Linked DNA regions of Homo sapiens: region 2 is linked to region 1. The links come from fine-mapping of genetic effects on gene expression. A gene starts in region 1. The other region holds a variant in brackets. All regions are shown on one strand. Distances are between the middles of the regions. Region 1 holds the start of OLFML2B (olfactomedin like 2B). Region 2 overlaps OLFML2B (olfactomedin like 2B).

Evidence for each region. PIP is the estimated chance that this variant, and not a neighbour inherited with it, causes the effect. A credible set is the group of variants that fine-mapping cannot tell apart.
Region 2: its variant is the best candidate, but not a certain one, in a credible set for the expression of OLFML2B in lung (TOPMed, PIP 0.81).

Annotation. Positions count from the first base shown.
Region 1 is chr1:162,021,998-162,026,383 of GRCh38, forward strand. It overlaps OLFML2B (olfactomedin like 2B), which reads right to left and starts at 1,872. Exons shown (of 8, transcript NM_015441.3): 1 at 1,260-1,872. The coding sequence starts at 1,433. RefSeq lists silencers at 1,984-2,133, 2,202-2,496.
Region 2 is chr1:161,980,904-161,985,289 of GRCh38, forward strand. OLFML2B (olfactomedin like 2B) reads right to left here. Exons shown (of 8, transcript NM_015441.3): 7 at 3,901-4,077; 8 at 2,289-3,373. The coding sequence ends at 2,772. Among named protein-coding and RNA genes, the nearest start is that of OLFML2B, 41 kb to the right of the region's middle. The variant A/G (reference allele first, on the strand shown) is at 2,322.

The DNA.
Region 1 (4,386 bases):
ATTATTCTCTCTACAGGAAGGAGACAAGGCCCAGTCCTAGGGCTTGGTGGAGGTGAAGGTACAGGCAGCCCTGGAGGATCCTTTTTCAGACATCCCCCATTCTGAGGATTCTGGTGACACCCACCACACGTCATCATGCCGGCTCTGGAGAGCACAAAATAAACACTCCAGAGAGAACTACCCCTTACAGACATGAGATCTGGGCTGAAGACTGTCAGACGCCCTGGCTCTACCCATGTATCTCTTCTTTTTTTTTTTTTTTTTTTTTTTTGAGACGGAGTCTCACTCTGTCACTCAGGATGGAGTGCAGTGGCGCGATCTCCGCTTACTGCAACCTCCACCTCCCGGGTTCAAGCGATTCTCCTGCCTCAGCCTCCTGAGTAGCTGGGACTACAGGTGCCTGCCACCACGCCTGGCTAATTTTGGTATTTTTAGTAGAGATGGGGTTTCATCATATTGGCCAGGCTGCTCTTGAACTCCTGACCTCGTGATCTGCCCGCCTCGGCCTCCCAAAGTGCTGGGATTACAGGCGTGAGCCACCGCGCCCGGCCTACCCATGTATCTCTTATGGTCTTTATCTATAAATGGGTATTAGGGTGTTTTGAAGATTGAGTCAGAAAAAACAAGTTTAAGTACTTGGTAAACGGACACTTTACGAAGCCCATCACTATCATGGGTTACTCGGGCCCCCACTGACAGTCTGCCCTAGCTGCCTGCATCTGCATTCCCACTCTCCCCTCCCAGTACACTCCGTCATGTTCTCAGTCTCTCTGTTTGGGGGTCACCTCACATTCATCACACATGCTTCTGTTCTGACTTCACCCCATGCTCCCGCCTGGTGTCCCACCCTCTGCCATAAAGTATCTCCCGATGGGATATGCCATCTGCCTCCTGGTCAACATATCCGGCTGTTTTCACATTCCAATTCTGACAGACAGCCACATAGACAAGAGATACTTTTTACAACCCTGAAACCAAAAACAACTTTGTTTTCTTTCTTCTCAAGAAGTCGAGCGGCATCTTCCCTTCCTTCACCTCTCCTTTCTCCTGATTTGATGACCTTTAAGCACCCTATGATTTTGCGAGGAGAACCTATATCCTTCCATTAAGAAAATATTCCGATACATGAAAAATCAAAAGCCCTTTCCATTGGTAATGGAAGGAAAAACAGCTGCCCTCAAACACTTCAGCAAGGACCAGCTTCTGGCTCTCACCACCATCCAGGGCAAGAAGGGCGGTCGTGGCACTCTGCATCCTACCTGAGATAAAACGTTCTCCTGGTTGTCCGCCTCGTTTTGCAGAGTCTCGTCCTCCGCAGGCGCCACTGTCTGCGCATCTGGGGGCTCGCTTGTCCCTGTGAGGACAATGCTGGACACCCAGGCCGGAACCACAATCAGAGCGAAGTAGAGAACTAGCAGCCGAGGCTTGGCCATGAGGGGCGCGATAAGAGTGTCCTCAGCCCCTTCAGAGAATGGCTGGGGCGGGGGGTCTCGGCAAGGACTTCTGCGAGAGGGTGTCCTCGCTAGAGCCCGAAAGTGGCTGCTGAGAGCACCTTCTAAAGCTGGGTGCGGCTGAGCGGGACGGGAGGGTGCGCCCCAGAGACTCTGGGCATCTCCTTCCCGACGCGAGCAGCCCTCGACTGTGCAGCCCCAGTGGAGAGCCGGACGCAAGGAAGAGGGGATGACGGAGAAGGTGGAGGCGGGCACGGGCTAGCTGAGCGAGTCGCCCGCAGGAGGGCTCAGGTGGCTGGAAGGCGTTCGGACAGACGCCCGCGGTGCGCGCCGGGACGGGCGGCGGGGAGCCTCGGGACGCACGGGGACCGGACACGGGGAGGGAAGAGGCGGTGGCGGCGCGGGCTGCTGGGCGAGGGCTGCTGGGCTAGGGAGCCGCGGAGAGCTCGCGCGGAAGGAGGGCGGAGCCTCTATTGTGCCGGGGCGGCGGAGATGCAGCCAGTGACCGCGCGGAGGAGGAGGACCTGGAAGCGCACAGGGCTCGGGCGGAGGGGTACCCGGCGGACCCCGTCCCCGCTGGGACTCAGCTGCCGCGCGCCGGCTGAGGGTGACGTTGGAAGGGCTTTACTTTCTTCTCATCTGATCGCAAGTGAGTGAAGAGAAGTTACTCCGAGCGGCGTCCCTGAAGTTTTGGGGTTCGACCATTCTTGGCGAGAAGAGCGACTTTCCATCGCAGGCACCCAGCGCTCGCTCCAAGGCTGAGCTAGTTAGGGATCTGCGGCATCGTCCTTTAGCACACCTGGGGCAGGGGAGAAGGCGCGTTTGTTCCCAGGCGTTTCTTTTCCCTGACTTAACTCTGGGCGAGTTCTCGGGCAGCTTTGAACTTAGCGCCGTTGGTAGCTGCTTGCCTGCCACGGCTTTAGAACCTAGTAATACCTCCACCCAGAGGAAAATCATTGAATTCCTTCCTAGAGTGTGTCCTGAGTTGTGTAAACGTTGAAAGTTAGGGGAATGACTGTACATCTCCGACACTCTCCGCGAGTCCCCATGGGGAAAGCTACTGCCTGATAAATGATTACCAAAGGGAACAGCTCTTCCTGTCTTCCTGGTTTGGGACAAATCTCCGGGTCTCTGTTACCAGATTATCTCTAAGAGGGAGTCCACTTTCAATAGTGTGCAATTATGTTACTATGTCCCTCAATTACTGAGGACAACCTTTTATAAACCTACAGTGAAGATTACCAATATGTGAATTTAAGGAAGGGCACTGTGCCATCCTGGACAACTGTCACTCGGAATATTGAACAGAGCCAGGCCCCTTCAAAGGATATTATGCACCCTTGGGAAATTCAAACACCTTGCTTCTTATGCTGAGGAATAAGGGTTGTAATAAACTAAGGAAACTAGCGCATATAAGTAATAGTTGACATAAGTATAATAATAACCCTTATTAGTATATTTTAATCTTCAAAAAATTCAGTTTATGGACAAAAATTCAATGCTCTGGGTGTCTAGGTTTGTGGGGACATCATGCACACACCCTCCTCTGTGTAAGCTATCAAATCTTTTCTGAAACTATATGGGGGTAAACATTGATAAAATGTGGTGTATTTGATTGTTTGTTTGAGACAGAGTCTTGCTCTGCCACCCAGGCTGGAGTGCAGTGGCGGGATGATCTTGGCTCACTGCAACCTCCGCCTCCTGGGTTCAAGTGATTCTCGTGCCTCGACCTTCAGAGTACCTGGGATTACAGGCGCACGCCACCATGCCCGTTTAATTTTTTGTATTTTTACTAGAGTTGGGGTTTCGCCGTGTTGCCAGGCTGGTCTCGACCTCCTGGCCTCAAGCCATCCATCCGCCTTGCCCTCCCAAAGCACTGGGATTACAGGGGTGAGCCACTGTGCCCCACCGATAAAGTGTAGTTTTAAAATTCAGTTAAGGGGCGGAGTGTGGTGGCTCACCCCTGTAATCTCTACTGAAAATACAAAAATTAGCCTAGCCTGGTGGCATGCACCTGTAATCCCAGCTACTCTAGAGGCTGAGGCAGAAGAATCGCTTGAACCCTGGAGGCAGAGGTTACAGTGAGCCGAGATCCGCCACTGCACTATAGCCTGGGCTACAGAGCAATACTTGGTCTCAAAAAAAAAAAAAAAATCAATTACAGTAAGCATTGAATGTTGATTAAGTGCAAGACAACAAGCTAGGTTGCTAGACATTTAATGGGAAGATGAGATAGTCCACATCTTACAAAGTGGGCGTGGGAGTCAGGAGGTAAGCAGAACAAGCACTGAAATTGTGAGGCAGAGTAAGAACATATCTCATGGGGTTTAAATAAGGAATAGGTCACTTCTAGTGGAAAGGTCAGTGTGGATTTCATGAAAGCATGATACTGAAGATGACTGGGATGATGGGAGGTTTCAACAAAACAGTGGATAAGGCAACATGATGGGAGGGGGGGCCATGGCAGGGGAGAGAAAGAGAGCATTCTGGGCAAAGACATAATCCTGAATGTGCATATTCATATTTCAGATGGCTGCTCACTTCTCAGGGCAGCCTTCCTTGACTCCACCACCAGCATAATTTCTCTATTAAATGCTCCCATAATACCATGTACCTCTTTTTCATAGAAGCAGGAGAGATGGATATTTATATTCCTCCTTTGTGGGTTGTTTTGGGGGTGCCTGTCTTCCCCACCAGACTATAAATTCAAGAGGGCAAGGACCTTGTTAGTTTTGCTCACCATTACATCTTCAGAGTTTAACCAGTGCCTAGAACAAAGTGGACACTAAATAAATATTGGTTGAATGAATGGAAATTACGAATTGTCCAACTGGGTGTAGGCTCAGTTACCTTTATAAATACCATCTCTGTATCCATTAGGGTGCATTTGACTGCAAGTGATAGAAAATCCTTCTAGGAATGTCTCAGTCAAATA
Region 2 (4,386 bases), 41 kb before region 1:
GCCCCTAAGCTTATATCCCAGGGGACCAGGAGATCGTCAGGGAATGCCAAAGGCGGAGCTGGTTTGGGAAATCAAGTTAAGGAATTTCACTTTAGACCGTGATAACGGCCAGTGTTTTACACTCTTTTACTTGCCTTGCTTTACTTGAATCTTCATGAATCTACCCTTCTTGCAGACAGAATGTGGTCCTTTTTACAGACGGCAGACAGGCTCAGAGAGGTCTTATCCAAGGTTTCACAAATGCCAAGTTGGAGAGCTGGGACTAAGACCCAGCCCCTGGAGATGGTCTTCTCCATCAAACACCCATCTTCACGGTGGGGAAGGAAGCAGGCAGGAAGAAGGCCTGCGCACCATCACCCAGCTGTGCTCAACTGTGTTGGATGCCGAGCGACAGCAGAATGCACCTTGTTCCTGCCCAGGGTGCTGGGTTGGTTGCAGGTGCTTCCACCAGCCTCACTTGGGGTGCCCGTGGGGCCCCTTCAGGCCTCTAGCTCCCTACTGTCTGCTTGCCCACAGCCTTCAGGTCTGAGATTCGCTCAACCCCTCTGCCTTCCGTTTCTGCTCCATATCCCCTGATCAGATGGCTTTCTCGGACCTGTTCTTGTAAACTTCAACCCCCTCCCTTCCCATCTTTCCCTGCTTTATTTTATTGTCACCTGTCACATTACACGTAATGTATTTCTTTTTCTCTCTCCCTGTCTAGAATATAAGCTTCAGGAGGGCAGGGACTTTGTGTTATTTACTCCCATCCCCAGTCAGGGCTCCATAAATATTTACTGAATGAATAAATGTACACATAAATCAATGAATGTAAAAAGAATGAAAGGATAAATTGTTAGGAATTTTTTCTCTACTTTTGAAATATACTGTTGGGAAGTCTTTTAACAGGAAAAAAAATAAATATATTTCCCATCAGTATCAAGCAATTAAAATGCTCTAAGTTTGACGAGGTATTATAGAGCTGGAGAAGACTCAGCCAGCAAGTCTGAGGGCTGGGAAACACCCCCTCATTTTACAGGTGAGGGCAGAGGCCCAGAAGGGTGGGGCTGCGGGTCTCAGGTCTTGCCCTAGGCGGCAGCAGGTGGAGCATAGCCTGGTCATGATTCTGCTCTTTAGGCTTTGGAGAAACTCATTCTTTGTTTAAATCTTGGTGTTTAAGTCTTGGTGTTTCCAAAGTTTAACCCCACAAAAGAAAGCTGCTTGAAGAAGTCCTGGATGTTGTGCTCAGGGAAAACATTAACGACCACCCAGCTTCAGGCCTGCGGTTACCCCTGCCTCTGCTTCCTCCTTCCGGCATGTGGGAGGAACCTGAGAAGTGTCCTCACCTGGCCTGAGTGGGCAGTTTGGCTCTAAAACCAATTGATTCACCCAGACAAGCTGCAGCCGGCCTCCCTGGAGGGCTGTTCCTCATGGCCCCCCACCTTGTTCTCTACACAGCGGGGGTGCTCCCTGGTGTGACCCTCTAACTTGGGGTCAGGAAGTGAGGCCGCCTACAGAGGGGTCGGGAGGAGGCTGAGGGGAGCTGCAACAGGAGAGCTGTGCTGATCTCCCTGCGGCATCCCTGGGTCCTGCCCTCCTTCATAACCTCAGGAGATGCCTGTTCAGGCTTTTTCAGATGTTCTATCTCCTGTTTTGTGTAATGTGGAGGAAAAAAATCACACTTGTGGACAGCAGGCACTGCACAGGGCTCAGCCCTGCACCGGGAGGGGCTGCAGTTCTTCCCCATCCCTCAAGTGCTTCCCTCAAGGACCTTGTTTCAGAAAGGGGCCCCTTTCCTGGAAGGGAAGGTGGGAGGGAAAGCCTGGCCGAATGAGCTTGTTCAGGAAAAGGCAGACAGGGTTATGGGCAGAAGGAGAGAAGGGGAGAGAGATGGATTGATTGAGAACTTCTTAAGGAAGTGTGGGAACAAGGTCGCACTCACTCAGTTTTGTATTTTCAACAGTGCCTAAGACCAGACCTCGAGAAGCAGGGCTAATGAATGAACGGGTTCCCCAACCTTGGGTGAAGTGATCAGAGGAGTAGCAGAACAGAGCAAGGAAGCCAGTGTGACAGAAAAATGAAGAGATCAATGCCACAAAATTAAAGAGAACACGGGGGTCGCTCATTCCAAATCCCCCACCAGGAAGCCCCTATCAGGAGGGGAGGAGGAGCTCCTAGGAACTGAACTTGGACGCAGGCCACTTCAGCTAGAGAACATTTCTGAGGAACACCAGACCTCGTCTCCTTCCGGGAGCGGGATCCAACACCTGGCCAGACATATCGGTGCTGAACAAAAGTGCACTGGGGGATGATTTTAAATTTCTTCTTTATTAAAAAAAAAA[A/G]GCGTTTTTCTGGGTTTTTTAAAACTTCTCCAATACATTAAAACTTTTTTTCTCGCCACATAGCACTTCTTTCTTGCCTCTTTCATTTCTGCTCCTGGTGTTGCCTGCCTCCTGCAAGACCCAGATGAAGAAACCTTTTCAATGGTCGAGATCTGAGACTTGGAGCTGGAGGGGCTGAAGGCTTGAAGGAAGGTGGTTACTGGTCAAAAGGAGAAGTTCATTTGCACAAAAATATAAACTGGGGAGGATGAGACCAGCACATACACGTATGGATTGATCTACAATCCATATAAAAAAATAGACCCAAATTGTCATTTTACATTTGCAATATTATACAAAATAATATATATTTTTAAACAACACATACCCACCTACACACACGTGCGCGCACACACATACACACAAGGTGCTAGTGACCCCTCTGTGCTTCTGCTTGTGGGGACAAGGGTGTCAGTAGGCAAAGATGACATGGTAAGTGACCTGGTGGCCATTGTCCCAGGCATAGAGCAGGCGGTCCTTGGGGTTGTAGTCTATCTGGGTCGTATAGGAATACTCATTCTCGAACAGCAGCCTGGGGACGATCTGTGTGTTGGTGTGGGTGTCGAAAGCGTAGGAGATGTTGGCATTCCGCTGGTTGTAGCTATCCACGGCATACAGCACCCCACAGATGACGAAGCAGTTGCCGTAGAAATTCCTCCGGAGCCCCGTGCGCCATGTGGTCTCCTTCTGTGTGCTCAGGTCCGCGGCATTGAGCTTGCTCAGGACAATGACCTCCTGGCTGAAGCCCTCATCGTCCAGGGCCGGGTAGATGAGCCATAGGCCATTCTCGTCCACAGCAAAGTCCACGTCTGAGTGGCCCTGCCATCGCCAGGGGGTGGCCTCCTCGTAGGCCACGTCATGCAGCATGGCCCAGGCAGCCACGTAGCGCTGCTTCAGGTCGTACTTGATGATGTTGCGGGTGAAGGCGCGATTGTAGTAGAAGGCGCCATTGTATACCACGTGGCCTGTGCCGATCCAGCTGTACGGGAGCTTGTAGGAATTGCTCCAGCGACCTGCAGGTGGGGAGAAAACAGGAGGCTTCAGAGTGGCATGGCAGAGGGTGGGCAGCCCATGTGGTTAAGTGAGTGATGATCAACGAGGGGTCTGGAAACCCAGGTTTGTGTCTTGGCTCTGCCACTTTCTAGCATCCTGTAGCACATCACTCAACCTGTCCGTGCCTCAGTGTCCTTATCTGTCATAGGGAAGTGACAATTCCCATCTGCCTGTTTCAAGGATCCGGGGAGCTAATATACATGAATGTGGTTCATAAATTGTCAAGGGCTATGGGAAAGGGAGCCTGTCTTCTGGACTCGGAGGTTTTTCCATGTCCCAGGAGCTCAGGAGGAGGGGCAGAGCTGAGAGGCAGAGAATGTGAGGGAGTGGGGAAGGGGGACCGCTCTCCAAGGAAAGGTCCTTTAGCCATCAGAAGAAGGTGTCATCCTTCCTATCCGTCATTACCACCCAAAGAGGCCTGGCTGTGATAAAAACAGAGGACGTGGGGAAGGGAAGGAGCAGTCTGGGTTGGATCTTTATCATGTACCTTGTTTGAAGTTCTCCAGGTTCCGGAACTCTACCAGGGTGTTGCCGTAGTAATAGTTGGTTACGTAAATCCGCTCATCCTTGGCCAGGGGGTCCTTCATCCAGGCCCCTTCATTCCGCCCATATGTGTTCTGGGTGGTCGGCCCCGTGATTGTGGAGAGAGTGTCCTTGCACCTTCCTGGTGGAGAAGAGGTGGATGGAGGTTTTGGGCTGATCTAGTGATGCCTCACCCCTTAAACCTTTGCTGTTCATCCATTTAGAGTCTGGACTCCTCGGCAGGCTTTAACAGCCCTGTATAACCTGACCCCAAACATTTTTCCACACCATCTCCTGCTACTCCCCTGATCCACCCTACACTTGACCCTACACTTGAGCCTCCACCATGCCCATCTTTGGCAACTTTCACACCACTATGCTTTGCTCCTGTTCTGACTTCTCAGTCCTATCCTTCAAAGACCTAAGATCCAGAGTCCTTTTATGACATCAT